2 separate regions of the Homo sapiens genome follow, and region 2 is linked to region 1. Evidence: fine-mapped expression QTL. Tissue or cell type: aorta. Region 1 holds a variant in brackets; the other region holds the start of a gene. All regions are shown on one strand. Distances are from middle to middle.

Region 1 (8,000 bases):
CTAGAGCCCCGGCCCCTTCCGGACGAGGCGTCTCCCGGCCCCACTCGCCCCGCCCCCAGCCCCTTCTGGACCAGGCGCCTCCCCGCTGCGGCCCTAGCCCTTCCCCGCATGGCCCCGCCCCCCTCTCGCCCCGCCCCCTCTCGCCCCGCCCCCGGCCCCTTCTGGACCAGGCGCCTCCCCGCTACTGGCCCCAGACCTTCCCCGCATGGCCCCGCCCACCACTCTAGCCCCGCCACCTTCCGGACCAGACACCTCCCCGCTGCTGGCTCCAGCCCTTCCCCGCGTGGCCCCGCCCCCGCCCTCGCCCCCTGCCCAGGCCCGGCCCCTGCGGAGCCCAGAGACGCGGGGACACAGGTGAGGCGCGCGGGGTCCGGGCTGCGGCTTCCCGGTGCGGCCGCAGTGGGCAGGTGCGACTGTGCGCGGCCTCGCTGGCTGAGAACTGGCGGGGGTGGGGGCGTGCCCTGGACTGACCCCCACCGGCCTAACCCGCGGTGCGGGGCCAGGGCCGGAACTGCCCGCCCGGCTCCTTGCCCGGCTCCTTGTGGCTGCTGGGGACCCCCGACACCAGCCACTTTCCCTTCCCGGCCCTTAGCAAGATCGGCTTCTCCGGTCACCTTTATTTTTTTAGGCTCGAGGCGTCTGCCGCACCTCAGCCCACGACCTGCCCCGCTGGGAGGTGCGGGCCGCTGGCCAGGCCCTGACCGCAACCTGGCCCAGAGGCCCCAGCCCTCAGGCAAGGTTCTCCGGGTAAGTGTGGGGCCCTGAGGCGCTGTGGGGTGAAGAGGTCTATGGAGGGGCGCCTGTGTACCTAGGGCCTTCCTGCACTCACAAGCCCCCAGGAGGTGCCAGGATCCGGGAGCCTCCCAGGGCCTGGAGGGGAGTCCCTGATGGGTTCCTGCCGCCACACCTGTGACCATCACATGAGTGTGGAGAGACGTTTACTGAGCAAGTGAGGGAGGCCAGCCTCAAGGGCCGGCTCTGGTGGCTGTGCACCGGGGTGACTTGGGAACAACGTGTTCTACGTCAGCAAGACAGGAACCCATGATCCCAGAGTTGAACACACTGGGCTTGACCCCTCCCACCGGGAGGCCCATGGTGGGCTGCTGCTGTGGACTTGGAGCCTCAGCACTCCCGAGACTAATGCTGCGTGGATGTCGGGTTGCAAGGCGGCTGCTGCAGCTCCAGCAGCTCCAGCCATCACGTCGAGTCTGGAAGAAGGAGGTGGCTGCTGCTGCTTTCACAGAAGCAAACTCTCCCATCCCCTGCTGCACCCTGGCTCCTGGACCCCAGCTGGGTGACTTGGGAAAGCAGGGGTGGTGGTATTAAGCTTGTCTTACCCGGGTCATGGCTGTTACCTGGGGCTGGCACATTGCTGCTGGGACCAGAATGGGATTCTGCACACCAGGCAAGAGGGCGTGAACCTCGGGTAGGCAGCTGACCGCTCCACATGCTCCGGGAAAACAGCACCCATACTCCAGTAGAGGCTGGGCCTCTCCGGGCCTGAGTGCCAGGCTGCACTGAGCCAGGGCTCCCACCGAAGGCACACTTTATGGCTTTGAGACAGCTCCTTCTGCCTCTCTGGGCTTTGGGGGAAGGCAGACATGGAAGTGCCGGGAGTCTCAGAACTGCCTGGGGCCTGAGTTTCTGAGCTGGCTTCTTGCAGGGGAGTGGCTGCTGTGCCTTTAGGCCTCTGTGCCGATGACCTGGGAGGAAGGTCAGCCTTCCCCGCTGGAGGGGGCCCAGCAAAGCCTCAGCTCCTAGAAGTGAGGGGCCTGCCATTGCCTGCCCGAGGACCCCACTCCTGGGGGCCAGATGCTGAGAGGGGACACTGGGGGCCCAGCAGACCAGAGAGCTGACCCCAGTCCCACAGCCTGGGTGGGTTGTCAACTTCTCGTGCCCCCTCCAACTCCTCCACCCCCACACCCCCTTAGGTAAATAGGAGGTCGAAACAGAGGCCAGAGGGTAAAGGAGGTGCTTAGAGTCCGGGCTGGCTCAGGCCGGCCGGGCAGCTGTGCTAGTGCTTGGAGTTCCTGCTCAGTCCCCGTGGTCTCCTCGCCCCTCTGGGCACTTGGGCTGCCAGGCACCGAGCTGAGTGCCGAGATGCAAAGATGAGTCCCAGGTCTGCAGGAGTTGGAGCCCAGCAGGGAGCTGGCCTTGGGGCCGGGCCCCTCCTGCTCTGGGCAGCCACCCAGCCCTACGACCCTCCTGTCTCTGTAGGGCCTCCCCAAGGCCTTGAATCCACCCCGGCCCCGTGCTCAGTGCATCATGCCCCCCAAGCCCCAGCCCTCCTAGAGGTGTGGGTGGGGGAGGGGCTGCAACCCACACAGGCTGAGGACACAGCTGCTGCCACTGCCTGGGGCCAGCCACGCATCCTCCCCAGACAGGGACCGGTCTAGCTGTACCAGCCGCTGCCCCGGACCTGCTGCCCTGCCCCACCCCCCCCTCCCCTGGCCAGCCTCCCCAGAGGCCAGAAGGCGCCTTATCGGGCAGGGTTAAGGAGGGGGACAGTTATCAGGGGCTGCAGCCTAGATTGGGCCACAATGTCCTCGTCTCTTGAGGGTGGCAGGCTGTGCAGGCTCCCTGATAAAAGCACCGGGGAAGGGAGGCTCCTGGAGTGTGCTGGAAGGAAACACTGGCCTCCCACATGCCTGAGGTCAGGGCTTGGCCTGAGATGGAATTCTCGCTTGGTCCCATCCTCCCGGCCTGACCCTGGGCAAATGACTCTACCACTTTGTGTCTAGGTCACCTGTTAAGTCAGGCGACAGACCCGGTGAGGGAGTCAGCCCCCGACCCTTAGTGCCCCTCTCCTAACAGCAGCCTCAGAGGGGGTCTTGACTGCCGCCCTCCATCCGCTTGTTTTACAGTGAAGCCACAGCCTGGCCACCTGTCTTGATCTCCCCACCGAGAAGGCCCCGCCCCTCCCGCTGCAGCCCCACAGCATGCAGCCCCAGGAGAGCCACGTCCACTATAGTAGGTGGGAGGACGGCAGCAGGGACGGAGTCAGCCTAGGGGCTGTGTCCAGCACAGAAGAGGCCTCACGCTGCCGCAGGTGAGGGGCCTGAGGGCAGCCTGCCAGCCATAGCAGGCTGGTGTCTCCCTCCAGAGACGCCTGCCCTAACCCCTGCTACCGGCCCCATCACCCTCCACCCCATCCTGGCTGGGAGCCCACGGTCCAGCAGCTCAGCAAACCGCAGCCTTTGGCCTTCCCTCTGGTTGGCTGTGGGCGGGGAGAGCTTCCTCT[T/C]GACTCCAGCAGAGCGCCCAGGCCCCTCCCCCTGACCCAGACCAACGGCCACAGTCCACTTAGGGGGCCCCTCATGCGGCCCTGGCCTGGGGCTCACCTCCAGTTGGTTCTCACCCCAGGATCTCCCAGAGGCTGTGCACGGGCAAGCTGGGCATCGCCATGAAGGTGCTGGGCGGCGTGGCCCTCTTCTGGATCATCTTCATCCTGGGCTACCTCACAGGCTACTATGTGCACAAGTGCAAATAAATGCTGCCCCGCATGCACGCGGGGGGCTGGCCGCACACGTGAGAGCACAGGCCTGGAGACACACCCCTTGTACACATGGACCCCCCCACAGACACGGACCCTGCGGCACACACAGCGCACAGGGCACACGCGCTGGCAGCCAGGCACACGAAGACACCAGGTGCACAGCTGTCATCGGCCCCACACGGGGGCGCACAAACACCTGGCACACAGCCCTTCAAAGGACCTACAAACAGCTGGGCACACGTGGCTGGGAGGCCTGGGCCCAGCCTCAGCAGGAGCTGCAGGACACACCCAGGCTGGGCCCTGCGGCCTGGAGCCCCCAGCTACAGCCTCCTCTCTCCCAGGGCCCAGCCCCTTCCCTTGTGAAGGCCAGGATGAGGGGTTCCTTCAGCGGACAAACCGAGCCCACCTCCCTGGCAGCCCCCCGGGGTGGGATCCTCCCGGCTGCTTTCCTCCGTGGGAGCAGTGTGCAGAGCTGTGTGGCCCTGGGCAGGCCCCTGTCCTCTCTGGGCCTTTCTGACTCCTGGTTTTGTAAGGGTGGCTATGTGTCCCCCGCCCTTGTCTCAGATGCACCATATCTTCCTTAGTAAGTGGGCACAGTTCTTCCTAGGCAGCCCACCACGCGCAGAGGCTGGGTGTGTCCCTCTTGGGGCCGGCGGCTGCCAGGGAGGACCCGGGTCTACCCTCCCTCCCCAGGGATGGGCCTGGTCCCTCCAAGTACTCCTTGTGGGCCAAGAGCCTGTGTACAGAGGCATTAAGTGTCTGTTGAATGAACGGTGGATGACAGCCCTTGCCATAGTTACCTGGCCAGGCGTGACATCCAGGAAGGCTGTGGGAAGGGCTTGTTTCCCCGGGGCAGGCCCCCCTCCCATGTGGCTCTAGGAATGCACCCCTACCAATTGGGCCCTCTGGCGAGGACAGCCGGCAGGCCTGGGGACCCGGATGTGGCTGGACCTCAGCTGTGTCCCAGGGACTTCGGTCCCATTCCCCCCACCCCGATCCTGGCCTCCAGTCCCAGCCCCCGGTCCCAACCTCCATTCTCTTGGTAGGTGCTTTCCTGGGTCTTGTGTTTGGCCCTCACCTACCACAAAAGATCCCAAAAAGCCTTGCCAGAAACATCCCCTTAGGGAAGGGGTCCTCACCCCAGGGCTGGGGGTGGGAGACACGGGCAGCCACTATCCTCACGGGCACAGAGAAGGGAGGCCACAGGGCCAGATGAGGTTATTGGAGGGCTGAGGCTGCGCCTGCCCCAGGCCAGGTCCCGCCGAAAGCATCAAGTCAGGTAAACAGGAGGGGCTGCGCCAGTCTTGGTAGGGAGGCAGACTCCACATCATCCGCCTTTGGGGCGAGCAGGCTCACTTGAGATCTGCCTGGGCCAGCCGGTGGCAGGTGGAGCTGCATGGCTGATTGCACACTGCCCCAAGGCTCCTGGCTCCAAACCCAAGGAGGGAGCCCAAGGGCCTGTCCTGGGCTGCGGTCTGAAGCAATGATGCTTTCCTGGGAGCCTGTTGTTGGGTGGGCTGCTGCCTGCCCCAGCCCCATGACAGCCTGGATCTTCAAAAAGAGATCCCTACCTCTGACCTGCCACTCCCAAGGAGGGAAAGGAGTAGCCAGCTGGTACCCTCCCTGAAGCCCAGCTTCACAGGACAGCACTGCCTTGGGGCTGCTGTAAGGAAGTGGCAGAGGCCGCTGGGCCCAGCAGTTTGGCTGCATGGGCCCCAGAAGGCAGCACTCCGACCTGGGGGTCCTGGGGCTGGGCCTCCCCAAGAACTGGTGCGGCCCAGGAGACAGGCGAGGGCACAGGATGGGGATGGGAGCTGTCCCAGTTCTACAGTCAGAGGGGAAGTGGCCCTGGTGCTTCTGCCACGGGTCCCGCATGCCAGTGATGCCCACGCACCCCCACAAATGCTCCTTCCCACCTGTCAGGGGCTGGCATCAGATGGCACAGGCGCATGTCGGGTCTGCCCTGGATCTGTCTGGCTGCATCTGGGTCCGCCCTGGCAGGGGCCCAGCATCTTCAGCCAGGGGCTCCACCAGCAGCCCTGCCAGCCCCAGCAGGGGAGGCTACAGGCAGACACCCACGGGTGCTCATTGGGCCAGGCACTCAAGTAACCCACAGCCGCCTCTCGGGCACACCACTTGTCCCCTAAGTGACCATGGTGGAGACAGCAGCTCCAGCCCCAGTACCCCCAGGGTCATGGACCTAGGCTGAGCTGAGCAGTGTCCTTACAGCTCTGGGAGGGTTGGGGAGAGGATGGGACAGGACCCTGCTGAGTGGCCGCCTGGCCTACCCTCCCAGAGACTCACGAACAGGAGGATCTGCTGTGGATGCGTCTGGGGCCTGGGCTCCTCTGACTGTGCACCTGGGGTATCCAGGCAGCCCGACACCTCTGGTCCACCTTGTGCTCCAGGCAGGGGCCCAGCAGGGTGAGGCCAGTTCCCAGGACCCCTGGTCAAGGGCACCAGCTTCCCCATGACAGTGGCAGGTGCCTCTTGCTCCCTGCTGGCAAGATCTGGGTGGGGACAGGAGGCCCTCAGCCTCCCCACATAGAAGCCACCACTGGGCTAGAGTGAGCTTTGTGACACTTCGAGCAACAACCTCTGGCAGTGCCGGTGGGAAAGGATCTGCTGGGCCAGGTGCGGAGCTGTTTTTATTAGTGAGTCGGGGGGTGGGGTGGGGTGAAGAAAACATCAGAGACACCTGTGCTGCGAGTTAAATACATTTCCAGCATCTCACGCATCACAAGCTGCATCAGGAAAGGGCACAGCATGTGGCAGCCTCATCCACACCCACGCAGTGACAGATGTGTTACAGCATGGACACCAAGTCCCCGGGAGCCAAGATGGCAGCTCCAGCATCCCTCCCTTCCTCCCTTCCTCCTTCCCGGGCTGGGCCGGGCCATGCAGAGAAAGGGCAGCCTCTGCCATGGCAGCCCCAAATCACCTCTCAGAGCAACTGTCTGGGGTCCCCAGCCCCAGAACTCCAGCAGAGTCCTGGCCTGGGGAAGCCCCCGTGCCGCCTCAAGCCTCCAGCAGGGCAGGCCCCTGGCCAACTGTGGCATCTGCCTTGACTGCCCAGAGCAGCAGGAATCAGGTTTTGGGAGGACACAAGGCAAGGCAGTCATCTGACACACCCACGGCAGTCCAGCTGGCACTGAGTGTGTGGGCCTCGTCCTGTCTGGAGTCCCCTCCCTCCCACAGTGGGCGAGACGGGAAGGCCTGGCGGTGACCAGACAAGTGGGTCCAGGTCTCAAGGCAGCCTGGCCCATGTCCTGCAAGGCTCTGAAGAGCCACCCAGCTGTTAGTCTGCCCACTGCACAGGGCCCCGGGCCTCTCAGGTTGACAACTAAAGGTGTGTGGGCTGTGGGGCTCTTGCAGATGCTTCCCAAAATCACCAGTCATTTCTACAGACACAGAAATCGAGACACTGAACAGAGAACAAATGGTGTCATTCGATAAAGCTGATGAGTCTGCTTCTCACATGGCACCCAGATCGTAAGGCAGTGGGGTCTGTAAAATCATCGCGGTGGCTGGCCGTGTCCTCATGAGCCAAGCACACTGACTCCCGGGAGTGGTGTGCACGCACATGTGGTGCCTGGACATACACGAAGACACATGGACGTGGGGGTCTGACCTGGACATTCACAACGGAAACGTCTACAACAGAAGGCGCCCAGGACCCACCTTTCTGGCGCATAAATGAAGATTTTTGGCTCAAAAACCTAAGCATCCTCCAGCTTTTGCTACCATCTGTCCCTCGGCTGGCTGAGGACTGCCGATGCTTCCCAAGCAGAGGCGTCTGGTCCACTCCTGGGGCTCCACCTGCCTGTCACTGCAGCACCAGCGTGCACACGATGGAAACCCCACCGATGCCGCTCTCCTCCGCTTGGCCCCGCTGAGCCAGGGTGAGGTGCTGCCACTGCCTTCAGCCTACAGGCTGCTTGCCTGAAGGGGTCTCCACATCTCCACCCCCACAAAGCAATCCAACAGCAGTATGAAGAGACGCAATTCTGCCAATTCTAAGGTCACATTAAAACTTTTCCCCCCAAGATTATGATCACTGCCAGCTGGAGAACCCAACGCCCTTGCACATGCCAAGCTGCATCCTGGCATGATATGGTTTTACAAGATGCTGCGTCATAGAAAGTGACCGTGCCGTTCAAGGAAACGCACATCGGTTGGCTTCCCAAGTTTTCGGGTCTCCGAACCAGTGACAGTCACGTGTCGCTCAGTGACACATGAGAAACGTGTGCTTAGCCGCTGCTGTGTGATCACAGAGTCTTTACACAAGCCTCGATGGTGCATGTAGTTTTATTTATGTGTTTTCATCTGGAAAACCAAGTGTCCCAGCAGCATGACTGAACATCACTCACTTCCCCTACTTGATCTACAAGGCCAACGACGAGAGCCCAGACCAGGATTCCAAACACACTGCACGAGAATATTGTGGATCCGCTGTCAGGTAAGTGTCCGTCACTGACCCAGACGCTGTTACGTGGCACATGACTGT
Region 2 (8,000 bases), 80 kb after region 1:
CCACCCACTGACAGTTGGCGCGTGGATCATGAGCTCCCGGGCACTGAAGCCGTCTTCGTGTCCAGATGAGCTGACGACTACAAATCCAATCTTGTGGGGCATTCTGCACGTTTGGGCTGTTTATAAGAGCAGGAAAAACTTCTTTAAAACAAAGGAATTCACTAACACATGGACATTTAAAGGGTTGGTTCATGCCTTGCTAACACACACAATAATGCACTAAGTATTCAGAATTTTCCCATCTCTTTGAAAAGAGTCTATTTTTTTTTGTTAAACACTTTTATAGATGCTTCTGGTTCTGCTTAAGATATCATTTAAGTTATCTTGACTTTTCCCAAATATGTGTCCAAAAAGTTTGACCAGTGCTGTGGATTGTGCTCCCCAAAAGGATACGCTGAAGTTCCACGTGTGGTACCCGTGAAGGAGACCTCATTTGAAAATAGGGTCTCTGTGGGTGTGATCTAGTTAAAATGAGGTCCTCGGGGTGGGCCCAATGCAACGTGACTTCTAAGAAGGGAAGAGACACAGCCACACAAAGGGAGAGCGCCATGTGGTGACAGAGGCAGAGACCGGAGCAACGCATCTCTAAGCGGGCCGGCCAAGGACGGCTGAGGATGGCCAGCAGGCGCCCAAGGTTAGGAAGAAGCCAGGAGGGATCCTGCCCTACAGCCTCCAGAGCGAGAGTGCAGCCCTGTCCATGCAGCCATCTGACTTCTGCCTGCAGAATGAATTTCTGGTGTTTTAAGCCATCTAGTTTATGATATTTTGCTATGTCTAGAATATAAACACAAACTTCTTTCTATTAGTTAGGAAACTAATACAACCAGTATGTTAATTAGTTATACAATACCAAGGGGAAAAAGGCAACGTAAGCGCTAGCATTAACAACTGCTAAATGAATGTGTATGACCAGAAGGAAGAGCAGGAATGACAGGCAGGCATATTAAGTACAAAAAGGTTCATGCAGAGTTAGGTTGAGGGACTGACTCACAGGACATTGAGCCCAATTTGCTCAGGGACTCTGGGTTACTTTTCAGTTACTAAGCCAGTCAGATTCCTCCTAAGTAAGCCAATTTGGGTTAGGTCTAAATCATCGGGGGAAAAAAAAAAAGGCTCCTCACTAAACCAGGATAAAGAAGACTCCATCAGAAAGTTCTCTGGGATAAGATATACTATTAATTGAAATTCCCAATAGGAGGTAACATATAAACATACCCCCACATAAAACTGTACGTATTTTGACATGCTTGATGCATGATCTAGATCTTTCTTTTACTTTCATTGAGAATTCGAAGAGGACCACTTCAATATATTAATTATTGGCTGGCATTATTGCTAATGTTTCTTGGAATGTATGAACAAAAGCACTAAAATAGAATGATAAACCATCGAGATTCTAGTTATTTTTTGCACAAAGTTCACTGCAAGATGTTACTGTATATTAAACAAAAACAAAACTAAACCAACTCAGAAAATAATTTTTAAAAAGCCCCCCAGAACAGGATGAGGCTGGGTGTGGTGGTTCCTGCCTATAATCTCAGCACTTTGGGAGACCGAGGTGGAAGGATCACTTGAGCCCAGGAGTTCGAGACCAGCCTGGGTAAGAGAGTGAGACCCCGTTTCTAAAAAACCAAACAAAAAAAGAATTTTGAAAGGATGAGTGTGATTTAACCCACTGTTAGCTGCACGGCCCCACCTGCACTCTGGGCAACCTATGCCAGAAACGCACAGCCCATGGCTCCCACTCCTTCGTGACCTGGCACTTCTGGGTCGCATGGGCTCTGAGCCTAGAGGTACTTTTCCCTTGGCCACAGCATCTCTCTTCACCCACTCCCCATCCAACAGTGTGCCAGGTCTTATCAGGCCTGCCCTTCCTTCTGATCCCACTGTCTTTTCTAGACAGCAACCACCTGGTGTCCCCACCTGAAGCGCCTCCCTCAGACAAGTCCTAAGTTCCTATTGTGTGAACGTGCCTCAGGCCCAGCTCCAGTCATCTCCATCCATGTCCTAACTCCAGAGCTCTTGGTGGGCTCCCCATCTAGGGATCAATGCGCCAACTCTCCCCTGACCCTCACTTCTTGTCCTGAATTCTGAAGTCCAGCCAAACAATCAAAGCTCAAAGTTAATACCCTTCAGCTCTGAAGCCCTCCAATCCTTTCATCAGCTTTTTTTCCTTTTTTGAGACAAGAGTCTCAATCTATCACCCAGGCTGGAGTGCAGTGGCGTGATCTGGGCTCATTGTAACCTCTGTCTCCCTGGTTCATGTGATTCTTGTGGTTCAGCCTCTCAAGTAGCTGGGATTACAGGCATGCACCACCATGCCTGGCTAATTTTTTTTTTTTTTTTTTTTTGGTATTTTAGTAGAGACGGGGTTTTGCCATGTTGGCCAGGCTGGTCTCGAACTCCTGGCCAATCTGCCCGCCTTGGCCTCCCAAAGTGCTGGGATTACAGGCATAAGCCACCATGCCAGGCCCCTTTCATCATCTTTCAGGGCAGGGCTTGTCACTCCCTATTCCACCTTGAAAATACCTCTTGTGCCCAGGCTGTTGGGTTCCAGTCTCCAAATTTTTTTTTTTTTTTTTTTGAGAGAGGGTCTCACTCTGTCACCCAGGCTGGAGTGCAGTGGCGTGATCGCGGCTCACTGCGACCTCTGCCTCCTGGGTTCAAGTGATTCTCCCGCCTCAGCCTCCCAAGTAGCTAGTATTACAGGTGCGCACCACCACACCCAGCTAATTTTTGTATTTTTAGTAGAGATGGGGTTTCACCATGTTGGCCAGGCTGGTCTCGAACTCCTGACCTTAGGTGATCCACCCGCCTCAGCCTCCCAAAGTGTTGGGATTACAGGCGTGGCCAATAAGCCCAGCCCCGATTTTTTTTTTTTTTTTTTTTTTAATACAGGTTCTCGCTCTGTTGCCCAGGCTGTACTGCTGCAGTGGCGTGATCATAGCTCACTGTAACCATGAACTCTCGGGCTCAAATGATCCTCTTGTCTCAGCCTCCTGAGCAGCTAGGACTACAGGCACATGCCACCATGCACAGCTACTTTTTTTTTTTTTTTTTGTAGGGATGGGGTTTCACTGTGTTGTCTAGGCTGGTCTTGAACTCCTCCCACCTTAGTGTCCCAAAGTGTTGGGATTACAGGCGTGAGCCGCCGAGCCTGGCTAGTCTCTGAACCTAACCAACACTCTCTGTTACGGCTCGAAGACATAAATATAGGACCTTTTCAGTCAAACAGAAGGGTGTTTCCAGTATGCTATACTGCCCCCAACAAATCTAAAACAAAGTACTGGCATTTAAGAACCAGCTAAGAGAAATGCACAGGGACTGTGGAGGCAATGCTATTACCTCAGTCTGGTATTTGAAAAGGATTCCTTTTTTAGTCTACCCCCTCCCAAAGACCTTCCAGTTGTACCCTAGGGTCCCCTCTGTGTAAACCTTCAAGTGTTACATAAGATACTTGGAATGTCACTGAAGGATGCCACTTTTAGGCTCTATAAAAATCACCATTAACAATTTGGGAAGAAGCAAAGCTCTGTTGAACATCCAGTTATTGGCTGGTCTTCCTCACCAGAGGCATGAGGGATCCCTGTTGTCCCAGGGGCAGCCATCGACATCCCGACAAATGCCAGAGTACATCTCTCCCCAGGCAGCGATGACTCCATGGCGGTCTCATCCCTCACTACACTTTTCCTAGTGCTGGCATGGTAAAAGGCAATTAACTATAAATTAAACGGAAACTCAGTGTAGCAACTTCCATTTTGTTACAAGACTAGGAAACAAAACTTGTCTCTGATTTTCTTTTTAAGAAGACTTTTAAGTGTGACTGCGCGCGGTGGCTCATGCCTGTAATCCCAGCACTTCGGGAGGCCGAGGAGGGCGTATTACTTGAGGTCAGGAGTTCGAGACCAGCCTGGCCAACATGGTGAAACCCCGTCTCTACTAAAAATAAAAAAATTAGTCGGGCTACTCGGGAGGCTGAGGCAGGAGAATCGCTTGAACCCGGGAGGCGGAGGCTGCAGTGAGCTGAGATCGTGCCATTGCACTCCAGCCTGGGCGACAGAGCGAGACCGTCTCAAAGGCTTATGGGTTTCTGATCAAGTCATCTTAGCGACTGAAAGGGCTTCAGAGAAATCTGAACTTAAGTGCAAACAAAACAAAACAAACTCCAAAACAAAAAACAACCAACCATCAGACTTTAATCTCTATAGGGACAGAGCAATTTTCCTCAAACTTTTGCTCAGCAGAACACATCTGAAACTGGCCCCCTATGTGCTACGCATCCAGAAGAGGAAAAGCCGGATCTGAAAACAATATTCCACGCTAAATGGGCCGTCCCGGCCGGGGCAGGCGGTCCCAGCACCCGTGCTGAGCTCCCCGGCATACGGCACGACGGGGCCGCGCCGGCTCTTCGGCGACAGCAAGGCCGGCATCTAACTCCACACCGTCCGCGCTTGCACCGCGCACCCAGGCTTCGTACCCAGCTCCCAGGTGGGGACCGCGCCCCCGCGGCGCCCGCGCCCCGCGCCCCGCGCCCCGCTCCCCACTCCGGCCCTGGGCCGGCGCCGCAGCGGCCCGGAAGGTACCTGCTTAGAGGGAAGGGCCCCGACTGGCGCTGCCGCGGCCCCGGTGGAGAGGGCGGCTGGGTCGGAGCGGTGCCGCGGCCCGGGGAGGCGGCCAGGCGGCGCCTCAGCACCCGGACCCCAGGGGCGTGCGGGACCCGGCTCTCGTGGACTTCCTCGGCAGCCGCCGCTTCCTCAGACGGAACTCGGGGGGCGCCCCTTCCGCCGCCCCAGGCCGCCTTGCACCCCAAGCTGCTGCGGCAGTGACAGGGAAGAAGCAGACCCGGCCACCTCTGCCCATAGCCCCGGCCGCAGCCTCCACTCTCATGACAACCAAGCCCAGCCCTGGGCCAGGGCCTCTGCGCGTGCGCGACCCCGCCCCACCCCAGGCCGCGCCTGCGCACAAGGGGAGGGCTCCGCTACTCTGGCCCTCAGGGTTGTGTAGTTTCCGGGGCCACGGCACCTGGGCACACCAGGTGGCGTCGCGCCTTTGCTTTCCTGAGCCTTCTGAGTAAGGTAATGTGGTGTCCGTGGGGCGACGCCTGCGCACAAGACCGCGTCGGGCCTCACTTTTCCCAGGCCTTCTGGGTAATGTAGTTTCCGGGATCGGCACCCGGCCTGTGCCAGCTTGCAGAGCTCACCAGGTGCAGACCCCTGCGGCCAGGGCGAGGACGGATCTGAGCAGCTGGGCAGCAGGTGCCACCGCCTGTGGGACCCAGAGGGCTTGAGGACATCTGCAATGCTCCAGAAGCCCAAGAGCGTGAAGCTGCGGGCCCTGCGCAGCCCGAGGAAGTTCGGCGTGGCTGGCCGGAGCTGCCAGGAGGTGCTGCGCAAGGGCTGTCTCCGCTTCCAGGTGCCCGCTGGGCTAGGCGGGGACGGCCCGTCGGGGAGGCGTGTGGGGAGAATAGGAGGTGCCGCTTTTCCTCTTCCAAAACGGAGGGTGCAGGCGGCGCCCGGGGCGGGTAGTTTTCGTTCGCCTCAGCCGCTAGGACCCCGGGCCCCCGCAGCCTGGGGTTCCTGAGCGTGGCTTCAGAACGCAGGGGGGTTGGGGGACGACCTGGATCACCCCTTCCCTCTTCCCACCTCTCGGGCAGGACAGCCCTGCATCAGAGCTAGGAGACCCGGGTAGAGTGCCAGGTACTGGCACGCGGGGTCACGGCTGCTCTGCCTGTCCGGCCTCAGCTTCCCCTTGAGTAACATGAAAGGCTTGGCTAGGTGGGCTCTGCAGGCCCCTTCCAGCCCTCGCAGCTGGGGATTGCAATCGTCACCTTATTCTAGGTTGGTTTTCTTTTTAGACCAGTACTAGGGTTACCAGGTGTGCATTGCCGGGGTCGGTGCGGGTGGGGTGGGAGTAGCCATAAAATGCCTAAAACTGACCAGTGCAGAGTAACAGGGAACCGGACTCCAACAAATTAACAGTGCCACGTGCCGGTCACACTTGTGCACAGAGGCAACCAACCGTTCTCCTTCGTGTGCCAGCACCGCTCTGGCGGCTGTGTGCTGGGGATGGTGGTGTTCAGCTCCTGGCAGCAGGGAGGCGGCGCTGTCAAAGACAGGCTCTATTTGAAGCGCCCTCAGGAGCTCATTTAAAAAGGGTGAATCCTGCAGAGCCAGCAGTCACCCCCTGATGTATGTTTTTCCTGACTCTTCGTATTTTAGAACGGCCCGCAGTCAGGCGCCCTTGCTCCCGCTCCCTCATCCTTGCCTGGGCGTTGGAGCGACTGTGGCATACAGGCGGCAGCCTGAGCCTGCTTCTTTAAGCACAGCTCATTCCGGTCGTTTGTGAGGCCTGCAGATGCAAAGCCCTCGTCTTGAGACCCTTCCTCCTCCTGTTGCTTCTCCCGTCCCTGCAGCTCCCTGAGCGCGGTTCCCGGCTGTGCCTGTACGAGGATGGCACGGAGCTGACGGAAGATTACTTCCCCAGTGTTCCCGACAACGCCGAGCTGGTGCTGCTCACCTTGGGCCAGGCCTGGCAGGGCTGTGAGTGGCAAGGACTTTGGAGGTGGGCGGGAAGCTGGCACTCTCCGAGGTCCTGGGGGCTTAGCTCCAGGTGCCCATCAGGGTGGGGAAGAGTCCCCCTTACTGTGAACTCTCGGGTCTCAAGGAGGAAGCCCTCTGGAGGCAGAACTGGTCAGCGTCGCTTAGGTGGCAGAGTCCTCAGTCCTCTCGTTCATGAACCCAGCTGTTCAATTGGTCGTCTTTTTCTTCAAAAAATCTTTTAATTTTATTTGCGTTCATTTGAGGTGTCCTAGCAATTCCCAAGAGCAGAGGGAGGGCTTTGGGGTTGGGGCCTGCACAGTTTCATGGGGAAGGTGGAGCCAGGAAGAGATGCTGTTCTGTTCTGCTGGGCTGAGCACCCTTCTGGAAGGACGAGGTGGTGGTTCGTGGGATGCTCTCACATTGTTCTCGGTTGGTGTTTGCTAAGATGCTGTCCTCAGGGCTCAAGTTTGGGGGCAATTGCTTTGAGAGGTGGTTCTTTCGGGGCATCTGTATTGAAGCCTCAGGACACAAAGTCCTGCCTTTCAGAACCAGCCGAATGCCAAGGTCTGCGCTTGTTTGACTCCCGTAAAAGAGAGCTTTTGGCCACTGGGGCAGGAGATGCCATCATGTGCCTTTACCTGGGAGGGTCGGCCAGTGTTGTGCAAATGGGGTCAGGCTCCAGGAGATGCTTCTGGCAGCCCAGGAAGGACATGGGTGCTCTGAGGGATGGAGCTGTGGCTCCTTGGCCTAAGGGGCAAAAAGAGAGAAGTCGAAGAGTAACATCCATGTGGCCACCTCCCCGGCTACAGTGTTGGGGGCTCCACTGTCAGCATTGAGGGGTGACGCCTCTGGTGTGTGCTCCAAGGTTGCAAACCCCCTTTCTCCACTGGGCCTTGTGCTTTTAGAGGAGGCAGCTGGAAAATGTATCACTGTGATGCCCCCTGGGGTGGCCCCTGCAGGAGGTGGGGGCTGGGCAGGGGTATGCTCAGGGTATGCCTCACCTTTGGATGTTATCTTTCTTTCCCATTTCAGGGCATAGTTGAAAGACAGCAGAGCACGTTGCTCTCTCTCTGTCTCTCCCTGCATCTCGCAGTCTCTGTCTCTCTCCTCTGTCTCTGTCTCTGGCTCTCTCTGTCTGTCTCTGTCTCTCTCTCTCTCTGTCCTTCCTTTCTCTGGCGCTTTATCCTCCTCTCTTCGCTGAGACCGCTAGTCCTCCTCCTTGTTAGACTTAAAAAAAATTTTTTTTCTTTTCTTTTATGAAAACATTGAGATGGGGTCTCCCTCTGTTGCACAGGCTGGCCTCAAACTCCTGGGCTCAAGAAGTCCTCCTACTTTGGCTTCCCAAAGTGCTGGGATTACAGGCATGAGCCACTGTGCCTGGCCAAAATATTTTTGTTTTATTTATATTTTGAAACTTTGTTGCCCAGGCTGGAGTGCAGTGGCACAAACCTTGCTCACTGT

Evidence for each region. PIP is the estimated chance that this variant, and not a neighbour inherited with it, causes the effect.
Region 2: CEP104 starts here. The variant in region 1 is fine-mapped to the expression of CEP104 in aorta (GTEx, PIP above 0.99).

The regions. Positions count from the first base shown.
Region 1 is chr1:3,772,435-3,780,434 of GRCh38, forward strand. SMIM1 (small integral membrane protein 1 (Vel blood group)) reads left to right here and starts at 315. Exons shown (of 4, transcript NM_001288583.2): 1 at 315-354; 2 at 629-747; 3 at 2,865-3,049; 4 at 3,361-3,522. The coding sequence starts at 2,940. The coding sequence ends at 3,487. It overlaps LRRC47 (leucine rich repeat containing 47), which reads right to left. Exons shown (of 7, transcript NM_020710.3): 7 at 6,125-8,000. RefSeq lists a silencer at 1-601, enhancers at 663-1,178, 1,179-1,694, 2,434-2,578, 2,727-3,242, 3,158-3,217 and cis regulatory regions at 2,522-2,538, 2,530. The variant T/C (reference allele first, on the strand shown) is at 3,242.
Region 2 is chr1:3,852,306-3,860,305 of GRCh38, forward strand. It overlaps CEP104 (centrosomal protein 104), which reads right to left and starts at 4,906. Exons shown (of 22, transcript NM_014704.4): 1 at 4,584-4,906; 2 at 1-116. The coding sequence starts at 102. It overlaps DFFB (DNA fragmentation factor subunit beta), which reads left to right and starts at 5,171. Exons shown (of 7, transcript NM_004402.4): 1 at 5,171-5,412; 2 at 6,413-6,539. The coding sequence starts at 5,299. RefSeq lists silencers at 4,573-5,072, 6,003-6,052 and an enhancer at 5,213-5,392.